Linked DNA regions of Homo sapiens: region 2 is linked to region 1. The links come from fine-mapping of genetic effects on gene expression. Tissue or cell type: fibroblasts. Region 1 holds a variant in brackets; the other region holds the start of a gene. All regions are shown on one strand. Distances are from middle to middle.

Region 1 (5,368 bases):
CCAGCCCTGGCCATGCTGGCCATCGTTCCTACCCTCCTGCTCAGCCAGCTCACTCTCACCCCGGCTTTGCAGCAGCTCTGCCCACTCCTGGATGCTCGGCCCCTGAACTCTGCATGGCTGGCTTCTGTTTGCCTGGCAGGTTGCTGCTTGGATATCACCTGCTCTGTTGTGCAGCCCCCATGTAATTCTCTGAATAGCACTCCTTTCTACCAGACAGCGTGCGTGTCTCCCCCCAGCTAGGGTGGAAATTCAAAGGAGCAGGGACACCCACCATCCCAGGCCTTCTACAGGGCCGGGCACAAAATCAGACTCAACAACAGCTGGTGGAATGAATAAAAGAACAGAGGGGGCTTGCACGCGCTTTGCCGCCACACTGGGAATTTTGCAAACACAGGCGCCTTTTGACCCAGCAAGTTGATGTCTAGGGTTTTCTCCTAAGGAGATCAGTAGACAGATGCCCACAGAAGTACAGTCAAGATAGTCCTTGCAGCGTTGCTTGTCATCATGACTACTGGCAGCAACCTAGGTGTCCATCAATAGGGGATTGGCTCAAAGCAGGTGTGACACAGCCAAAGGGTGGAATGTTACGCAGCCACTAAATAGATGGGTCTCTTATCATAAAGGGAGGGAAGCAGAGCCTAGTGCCCGATGTTCAATACGATTAATCCCTGGAGGGTAGGAGCTCTGGTTGTACTTAAACATGTCTAATTCATAACAAGAGGGAAATGGATTGGGAGGTGGGAACTGTCAGGGTCATCCAAGTCTGTACCTTGACTGGTGAAGAAAGTGAGGCCCAGGGAAGCAAGACCCTCTCCCTAGGTCACAGCACTGCCTAGAGGCACAGCCAGAGTTGGGGTCCAGATCTTCTTCCCACTACTTCTGCTCTCAGCAGGTTCTGGGGGTACAGCCAGCCGAGTGAAGGGTGCATCCTGAGCCTCCATGTAGACCCTCAAGTTGAGTCCTTTCTTTTGGAGCCTCAGTTTCCTCATCTGTAAAATGGGCCCATGTTCTCCCACGCTTCCTTTACTAAGCTGGGGAGATGATAAAATTTGTATGAGGAAGAGCAGTGCCCTTTACTGAGTGCTTAGGACACACCCAGACCTGCCCTAAGACTTTGATGCACATTACCCCATTTCATCTGCACAATAACTATCTGAAGTAAGGGCTTGAGTAGCCCCATTCTGCCAACGCGACTCACAAGAGTTGAGTAACTCACCGAGTGGCACCCAGCTAGTTGGTGGCAGAGCCTGGATATAAATCCAGATGGTCAATTTCAGCCCCATCCTGCTAACCACCACATTCTATCTGAAAAGAGACCACGTGTGCATATGTACAAATGGACACGCAGATCCCCTGGGGCCTTGGAGGACTAGGGAGACCTGGACCTGAATCCGTCCACTGGCTAGTGGTCCAAGGACCTGATTTCCCCCTTCTGCCTCCTCAACCCCCAGTCTGCCCTACCCACTGATTAGAGCCAGGGAGCCTGGTGCCTGCAGCTAGCCTGGGTAGGGCCAGTCTCCCTGTAATTAAGGCAGCGGGAGGTTGGGAGCTGGGATCCCTGTCATCCGAGGTTGGGGAGGAGGGGTGACGAGTGACTGAAGGAACCTCCCTGTAGCCAGGCCAACCACGTCAGCAGCCACTGGCTGCTCTGGGCAGCAGTGGGTGGCCAGGAGCAAGCCCGGTGGGTTCTTACCTCTCTGCCACCCCTGGCCTGGACCCTCCTGTTAGCCTCCTGCCTTCACTCCCTGTCTCCCTGTATCTCCCTTCTCTAAATGTCTCCTCCACCCCAGCACCAGAGCCATGTCTCCAAAAACCAGGTCACCAAGGCTTGGCTTCTAGTGTTCCAGCCATGCTGTGGGGATAGAGGATTTCTCCTGCTTTCAGAGCAGAGCGTTAAGAAGGCTGCGGGGAGCCGCTTGCAGGAGCTCCCAGGCAGCCATTGAGAAGGAGGTCATTTCCCTGGAACAAATGCCTGCTGGGGCTGTGTGTCACCCTCTGGAACACGCCCACACCCCCAGGCTGGCACTCCAGGCCCTTTCTTGATCTAGCCCAAACCTGCTTATCAGCCCTGACTTCCTCCCAGTCACCTGTCATTTCCATTGTGTGTTACCTTCTTGCCTCCACGCCTTTGCTTGTGCCATTCCCTCTAACTGGGACGCCCTCACTTTTCCCTGCTTGGCCCATCAAATTCTGCTCTTCTTTCTCTGCCCAGTTCAAACACCTCCTCCTCTCGGCAGCCTTCCCTGGTTGAGCCCAAATGAAGCTGTCTCCCATAAGCCCACGGTACTGCCCTGTGGCTTGGGTGGGCTTGTGGGAGAGGAAGATGCAGATTTTTTTTTTTTTTTTTTTTTTTTGAGATGGACTCTCGCTCTGTCGCCCAGGCTGGAGTGCAGTGGCACGATCTTGGCTCACTGCAACCTCCGCCTCCCGGATATAAGTGATTCTCCTGCCTCAGCCTCCCAAGTAGCTGGAATTACAGGCACGCATCGCCACACCAGGCTAATTTTTTGTATTTTTAGTAGAGATATGGGGGTTCACCATGTTGGCCAGGCTGGTCTCTAACTCCTGACCTCAGGTGATCCGCACGCCTCAGCCTCCCAAAGTGCTGGGATTACAGGTGTGAGCCACCACGCCCGCCTAGGAGATGCAGATTGAATGCAGATTGATTGAGATGCATCTTTGTCCTCCCCACCATCCCAGCACCAAGGCTGTGCACTCTCTGGGGTCCAGACCTGCCCTGGTGGTCACTCACAACTGTGGCCTTGGTCAAGTCACATCACCTCTCTAAACTGCATTGTCCCCGTCTGTAAAATAGGAGAACCAGAGTTTCTCCTGGAAGGGACCATAGTGAGGAATGTATGAGACAATGTGGGCAAATACTTGAAATGGTGCTCACCTCTGGTGCCTGCTTAATAAATAGCACCCAGGGTTCCTACAGCTGTGGCCGTGGAGCCTGCATCTCCCTCTC[C/CCCTGGTGG]CCTGGTGGCTTCCCCTCTTTTACAAGGTCACCAGGGAGGCCTTCCCAGAGGACAATCCGGATCATGTCATTCTCACAGACCCTCCTCCAGGCAGGCCTGGAGTCATCCCCAAAGGCTCTGTCCAACCCACTCCTGCCTCTCTCCCTGGCTCCCCCGTCCCATCTCTCACCAGCCTCGCATCATTTGCTCTACTCCAACCACCTGGAACTTATTCGGGGGGGCACTGAACGCCCCACGCACCCTTTCACCTCAGGGCTATTGCACAGGTCACTCCCTCCTTCTGTACCTGGCTAACTCCTTCTCGTCCTTTAGGCCCCAGCTTACGTGCCCATTCCTCCAGGAGGCCTTCCCCGACCACCTCTTCCATCCAGGTGAGGCGCCCCTTCTCTGTTCCTGCAGCTCTTGCACCACACACTGCGCTGCAATGACCTGCTTTCCTGTGAGCTCCAAGAAGCCAGGCACTGTGCCTCGCTCCCTGCTGCAAACTCAGCACCGGGCACGGTGTCTGGTGCAGACTAGATGCTCAAAAAACATTTAGTGACTAACTGAATGGATGGATGAGTCAATTTCTGCATCCCCCACACTGCGGGAAATGTCTGTAGAACAGATTTGAGTGGGAGGTTCCAGCAGGGCCTGGGAGAAGCCCTTGGGGTTTGGGCACTGGGGGTAAACAGAGCAGACCCCCCAACCCCTCCCCTGGGGGGCTGGGCTCCCCGCTTCCTGCAAACCCCCTGGGCCCCAGAGCCGGCTTCCAGATGCTAAGCCCGTCTCAGCCTCACCTCTTAGCTTTTCCATCTGCACAGCCGGGCCAGATCCCCGCAGCCAGCATCACGGGCAGCCAGGCCAACCGTCCCGGCGTCTTCCTATTTTAGACATCTCGCTGCCTCAGTCCCTTCTAATGTTTCCAGCCAGGCTGCGGGGGGAGGAAAAAGAGGTTACTGCTACTTTAAATGTACTGTATGAAGGCGAGGGCTGGAAAGGGGCCTGCTTGCAGGAATACCCAGTCATCTAGTTGGAAAAGCCGCCAGATGGAATACAAAAGGAGGAACCCAGACGCTCATGGAGACAGCCTCGGTTCATAAATCAGGTGGGGCCAGGGGCTGGGGGCCCACACGCCATGGAGCCCGACTCCCTTCTGGACCAAGACGACTCCTACGGTAAGACGGTGCCAGCAAAGTGCAGAGTTGGGGGTTTCAGCCTCTCTGCTCAACAGACTTTTCTCTGCTATAGGAATCTGAGTTGAAGCAGGGAGGCAGTCAGGCATCTGGGCACTGTCTGGTCTTGGGACCCATGGGTGGGCATGGGTGCGTTGGGCTATGAGACTCAGGGCTGGAGGGTCCCTGGAGCGGGCAGCCCCTCAGACTCCAGGCATTGACAAGGTCCAGGGGAGGGAGAGAGAGTTTCTCAGCTGCTTCTGTTTTGCTCCTGGCCAAGAAGGAAAGGAAGGAAGTTTTGCAGCCCCCCTGCCTGTCTGCCTACCTCGCTGTTCGCCAGGCCTGCCCTGTGCTGTGGGGAATTCAATTAGTGCGATCCTGCGGATAAATATAGATGGAAGAGGCAACAGGAACATACCTTGTAATTAAAGGCCAGGGCTCATGCTGAAAGCACTCCCCGTGTGACAGGGCCCCAGTGGCTGCCACCGGAGAGCTGCCCAGGCCACTGGAAGCTCTGCATGCATTATTGGGGGAAAAGTTGCTCGGGACAGAGCCCATGCAGAGTCTGGAAGAGGGATTTATAAGACTCGGAAGGGTTCCTTCGTGGTGGTTTCTGCAGGCCTGGGGCTCCAGCGACGCAGTAACTCAGCTCCTGCACTACTCAGCCTGGCCAGAGAGCTCACATTTGGCTGGGATGCCCGGCACAGCCTGGCTGTCTCTGGACAACCAAGGAGGGACGCAAGAGTGCAAGAGTGTGGCCGAGGCACCGAGGCTGGGCATGGGGGGGTGGGGCAGCAGGTTTTGGGACTCAGCAGGGAGAAGTCCTGTTGGCCTCGGAAGAGGTGGTAATTGCAGGGCGACCTCATCCCAGCTTGGGTCAGGTCAGCCTTCCAGGGGTTCAGGTCCTCCTGAGACCACAGTTCTACTAAGAAAACCAAGTGCTTGTTTCTCCGGACTTTCCCCCACCCCATCCAGGCCTGGCTGCCTGGCACAGATTCAAGGCCAAATTTCCTTCCTCCTGCAGGAGCTCAGCCCTTTCCAAGGAGAGGGGCCCTTTGCCACGTTTGGAGCTGCAGCCCTCAGGGAAGCTTGGCAAGGCCCAGCCCACAGACCTGGCATCTTTGGGCCCAGGGGACGGGGGGTCAGTTGATGCATGCAGAGTGACCTCCATGTGCCAAGCCCTGTGTCAGGGTCAGGGATGTGTAGGAATGAGGAACTCAGTCCTAACAAATAGTTGGTGCTTAG
Region 2 (5,368 bases), 300 kb before region 1:
ACTCTGGGAAGGAGGTGGTCTTCTGGCAAAAGAAGATATCAAAGTTCTTCCATCAGAGGAGATCCTTATCAGCAAGACATTCACTCTGAGGTGAGGATCCAGGACAAACAGGCCTTACCTTACCTAGATCCAATGGGGGGAGAAGTACAAAGAGGTATCTAGAAAGGAATGAAGACAGGATACCAAGAAGACTTCTAGGCATCCATGAAAGGCAGACTTGATATATCCTGCCAGCTATAAAATACACATGTTGAGTCATAAAGCAAAGCACCAGGAGATTTCTAGAAGTGTTCCTAGAGGAGCACTCCCATGTAAGTATTGGTTATCATCATCACAATCATCATCAATCAATCATCATCATCATTATCTTCATTATCATTTCTAATGATTCCTGGTGATACCCTGTTCCCATGTTCCTCTCCAGCCACCAAATGGAGCAATTACAGGGTTATGGGTAGGCATCTGACCCAGCTTAGAATATGGAACCTTAGATCTAGCTTAGAATGTGAACCCTTTTGCTCTCCTGGCCTCAGTTTCTCCATCTCTAAAGGGAGGAGTTGGAGCAGACATTCTCCAATGTTTCCTCCATCGTGATGTGGTATTCTCCAGTTCTATGGGGACACAGATTCAGAGTTCCACCTCCCTTTGTCTGAGAGCAGTTGCTGGGGCTGGAAATGATATGTTAGATAATTCCAAGGCATGTGTATGCCGGGGCTTGTAATCAAAGATTCCAGAGCCAAATAAGCCTGTGTTTTTGCTTTTCTCCCCAGCAGCCTTGCATTGGGCCCCAGGCAGCCTCTGGAGAAAGCAGAGAGTAGCAGAGATGGTGTGAGCCTCCCTGCGGGGTGGATACCTTGCTTGTATTCTCAGAGAAAGTGGAACTGGGCAGAATTTCCCAAGCCAGGAAAGGTGGCAGAGTGTGACATAAGACATTGAGCAAAGAAGCGAGGGCCAAGGACTCAGGCATAGAAGAGTAGACTGCACAGTATCAGTAGTGTGACCTCCAGAGAGTACTTAACCCTTTCTGTGGGCTTGGCCTGCTCATCTGAAAAATACACATGGTAATGCCTCCCTTAGGAGGCCAGGTAGGGAGGTGAGAATTAAAGTCGGTAATACGTGGGAAGCCCAGAGCATGGCATGAGGCATTCAAGAAATGGTTCTTGTATTTACTGGTGTTGAACAAAGAGAGAATGGCAGGAGGAAGAGCCAGGGTGAGATTCCCTGGGTCCTGTGGCTTCCCTGGCTGCTATTCAATGGAAAAACCAGGGAGTGAGCACTGTGCTCTTGGCTTCTGTGCTACTTAAACAACAGCCTTTTCTGCTCTGATCCCCAGCACCCGGCAATTACTGACTCTAGTACATTTTACCTTGTGTTAAGAGGGAGCTTTACCCTGGCTGAACATGGGGCTGCTGCCAGCACCCAGGCTGGGAATGGACATCTCTGTCATGTGGTGCAGTCTCCTGTGGAGTGTGTGAATCCTTCCAAACCGGAGTCACGCGGCAACTCCAAAAGTCCTGGGAACTCATGTGTGCACCAGGACTGCTGGGAGGCCGTCTTATGCCTTGCTGCATTATAAACGGCTATCGTCTCAAATGCATATGAGATGTTGTTGAAATCAACAAAGTATTACATTTGCTTAAAATTGACCTTGCACTCATCTTTCTACCCAATGTGGATTTCCTCAATCTCCTAAAACAGTATCTGCCATGACACTAATAAGAACATCCCTTCCGTTTATGCAGAAGCCACGGTCCCTGTCATTGTGCTGAGAGTCTTTTTCTCACTGAGTCTTCTCAACCGCCCCATGAAGCGGCAATTCAGGATGCCCATTTGACAAACGAGGAAACGGAGACTTAGACATGTGAGCTCGCTTGCCCAAAGTTACAGGACTAGTCGATGTCTGGGGTTCCAAACCAGGCCTTCTGACTCCGAGGCGCCTGCTTAATGGTCCACTTTAAGGACCAGGGATGCACTTGGCATTTTCGTTACTTCATTCGGAATGAGCTGGGAATCGCTCTTCCTCCTTATTCCCTTCCGTGGGAGGGAATCTCCCCTGCTTTGCATGCAGCCTATGTCACTCTTCGAGGGCTTTGCCTCCTGAAGTCCGTTCTCTCCAGGGCTGAAATCTGCCTCCGCTGGTGCTAGTTGAGCATTGCTCGCTTGCCCGTCCCATCTGAGCTCTTTGGCCCCAGCCCAGCTCAGGAGCTGCCCTGGGTCTCCTCCCCGACCCTAGGCCTCTTCAGATCTCCCCTCCGTGCTCCGGGCCTCAGTTTCCTCCAGGGGAAAGCAGAGGGCTTGGTTTGGTGCCTTCCTGCGAGGTGAAGCGAGGGGTCCCCCTGGACGAAGGCGAGCTTGGAGCCACCCGCCCAGCAGCCGACGGGAGGGCCTGGCGCTCCTCCCCCACCCGCCTGCCCGGCCGCCCCGCCCCGAGGGCGGCTCCCGCCCGCGCCCTGCCCACCCCGGCCGCGCGCACCACAACGCCCCCGCCCCGCCGCCCGGAACCAGCTGAGCGCAGCTGGACCCAGCAGCCGCTGTCTCCAGTGCCGCAGCAGCAGGTAGGGGAGGCGCGCGGCCCCGGCCCCGGGCATCTGGGGGTCCCGGGCTGATTTGAGTCCTTCCTCTCCCTTCCTTCCCGGTCCTATCTCGCCCGCGCCTGGAGCTCGGCCCGGCCGCGGGGGCATCGCTGGAAAAGGGCTTCCTCGCTCACTTTTCCCGTCTTCCAAGGGACCAAAGAGTGTGGATGGGAGTTGGGGGATGGGGAGACGCCGGAGCAGGAGAGGAGAGGGGCCAGGCCTCCACCCCGTGATTCCACTGTGCTGCTAGCACCTGAGCTAATAACCTCGACCCCGCCCCCGGGATGGGGGAACTGGCCCGGGGTCACCCCTGCACTTGGGTTGTCTGACCCGGGCATGCAGGGGACCACCAGCTACGGTCTGGGCGGTGACTCTGCTGGGGAGTCCACTCAGAGGACCCTTGCCTCCTGGACGATACCTGTGCCTGCTCTCCTCTCCAGCTGCTTCCTCTTTCTGGGGACTGTTAGAAAGTTCTTCCTTACACTGTCTGAAATCTTCAGGCGCCTGCTACCTGTAGGTGCTGGCTTCTCCCCGGCCCTGCAGTGTTCCCTTCCCTGACTCACACGGAAGCTTCTTCTGGAGTTGAAGACAGTGATTGGAACCCCTTCTCCCTGAGCCCCCATGTCTTCTGGGGTCCAGCCCCCCAGAACCTAAATAACAGCAACTTCCCTCTGGTCCAGTGCAGGCTGGCTGGTCTGGGCAGTGCCCAGGGGGAAGCCCCAGTCCTTGGAAGGCTGGGGGCTGGGGGTGTGGGTGAGCAGGAGACATTGGCTTTCTTCCTAGCTCCTTGTCTGCCCAGACATCTGTCGCTTTATCCTGTCTTCACACCCTCCTCAGAGCATGGAAGGGAGCTTTAAAACACCCAGAACTCATTCTGGGCTGTCCTGAGGGTAATTGGACTTTGTGGAAGGCGGGGCCTCTGGGGAGGTGCCTTTCGCTTTTGTTTGGCATCTGGGGACTTTTCAAACACTTAATCCTGTGTGTCCTGTTCTCCCAGGACCACATTTCTGACCAGGGCACCAGGACCTCTCACCGCTCTGCCGTTTACAGCGACCATAGCTTGCTAGAATCTTACCCCATCTCCATTTCCTCCATTTCACAGTTGAGAAAAGTCAAGGACCCAGAGAGTTTATGATGGGCTAATTGTCACACAGTGAGGCAGGGTAGGGCTGAGACCCAATTCCGGTCTGCCGTTTGCGGACTCCTTGCTGGGAGGGACTCTAGCCTCCTTCTTGGGTGTTCCGTTTACTAAAGGGACAAGCATTCCCTGTACATACACACTTGGGGGTGCTGGTTGGTGTTTCTTGGGGCTGTTAAGGGGGAGAGGCTTGGAAACAGAGGAGGAAGGATGGGGGTGGGAACGGTCGGCTTTCAGCTCCTTTGAAACTCCATTTTTCTTTCTGGGGCCATGCTATTTATAAATGCCAGGGAAATTGTAAACAGCCAGGGGAGCTTGGGTTGGCACTCGGTGAGTTACACAGCAGCAAAGAAGGTTTCTGTGTGAATCAGGGGAGGAAAGTTTACTCCAGAATTTTCCACAGTCCTTTTATTAGGGACTAACATGAGCCTGGAAACAGGCTGCTCCCAGGAGGGGTGGCTGCAGGGTTTGCCCCGCATGGCATTTCCTTCCTCCCCGCCTCCCTCCTTTCAGCACTTCTCTGGGCCTGTGTTCTGTGCCTTGCCCTGCGAGGGGCCAAAGAGCCTTGGAAGAGGACAGAGCTCTCTGTCCTCAAGATGCTTGCCATCTATACTGTTTGACACTTTTGTGCCATATTAAGAGTGACTTCAGCCTGCAAGAGGAGTGACTAATTTTGTCTAGGTGAGCCAGACCTCAGAATGAATAATCATTTACCAGGAGAAACAGGAGTTGGGGGAAAAGACATTCTGGGAAGCAGGAACCACTAGTGCAAAGGCACTGAGATTTTCTGAGCCATCCATGTGGCTAGAGTGGAGGATGGGAGAAGGGCGGGGTGGTGGGAGGTTGAGAATCTAAATGAAAATGGAACTAGATTATAAGCTAAGGGTTTGGACCTCATCCTGAAGGCAATGAAGAGCTGAGAAAGGGTTTTGACAGAGCAGTGATTTTTAAAAACTCGTTATTCTGAATGGCTGATGTAGGGGATGCATTGAACGAGGCTGATCTGGAGGCAGGAAGGCCCTGAGGAGGCTGTTGCATGATTCAAGTGAAGTAGATTGCAGGTCTGAACTAGAGCAGTGGCCACTGGGATGGGTCAGAGCAGCAGATTCTGGAAGCCCAGCTGAAGGTCTCAGAACCTGCTATAAATTTCATCTAAAAGCAGACAACAGGCTAGACCTACTGGAGAAGGTTGCTAAGGTATTCAGCATTGTAACTTTTTTTTCTTTTTCATGAGTTTTAAAACAAACAAAAATTGTTAAAGAATCCCTCCAAGCCCGCCTCTTTCCCCAGAGGTCGCCACTGTTAACAATGGTGTGTGCACTCCTGCCAAACACGTTGATTGGATGCCTTCACTTTTAGCCATCCAGTGACAGTGGGTCACTTTCCCCTACTCCATGTGAATAGTTTGGGTCATTTGTGATGTGGGTCATAGAGATGATTTCTGCTTGGTCTATGGTACGTTGCTGAGACACTGAGCTCTGGTTTTCTTTAAGAAAACTTTTACATCCTGTGTCTGCGGCCTCTGGGTGTGTATATTTGCTTATCAGAGACCACAGGTGTGAGAGAAGTTAGAAGCACTGACTTGGAAATGGACCCCCAGTCTTGGTTCTTTGGGTGACCTTGGGCAAATCCTATCTCTCTGAGCCTCTGGTTCCTC

The links. PIP is the estimated chance that this variant, and not a neighbour inherited with it, causes the effect.
Region 2: it holds the start of GSN, and the variant in region 1 is the best candidate, but not a certain one, in a credible set for the expression of GSN in fibroblasts (GTEx, PIP 0.65).

What each region holds. Positions count from the first base shown.
Region 1 is chr9:121,563,103-121,568,470 of GRCh38, forward strand. LOC107987016 (a long non-coding RNA gene) reads right to left here and starts at 3,882. Exons shown (of 2, transcript XR_001746560.2): 1 at 3,749-3,882. It also overlaps a transcript of DAB2IP not described here. The variant C/CCCTGGTGG (reference allele first, on the strand shown) is at 2,969.
Region 2 is chr9:121,265,665-121,271,032 of GRCh38, forward strand. It overlaps GSN (gelsolin), which reads left to right and starts at 2,498. Exons shown (of 18, transcript NM_198252.3): 1 at 2,498-2,555. RefSeq lists a silencer at 2,386-2,685.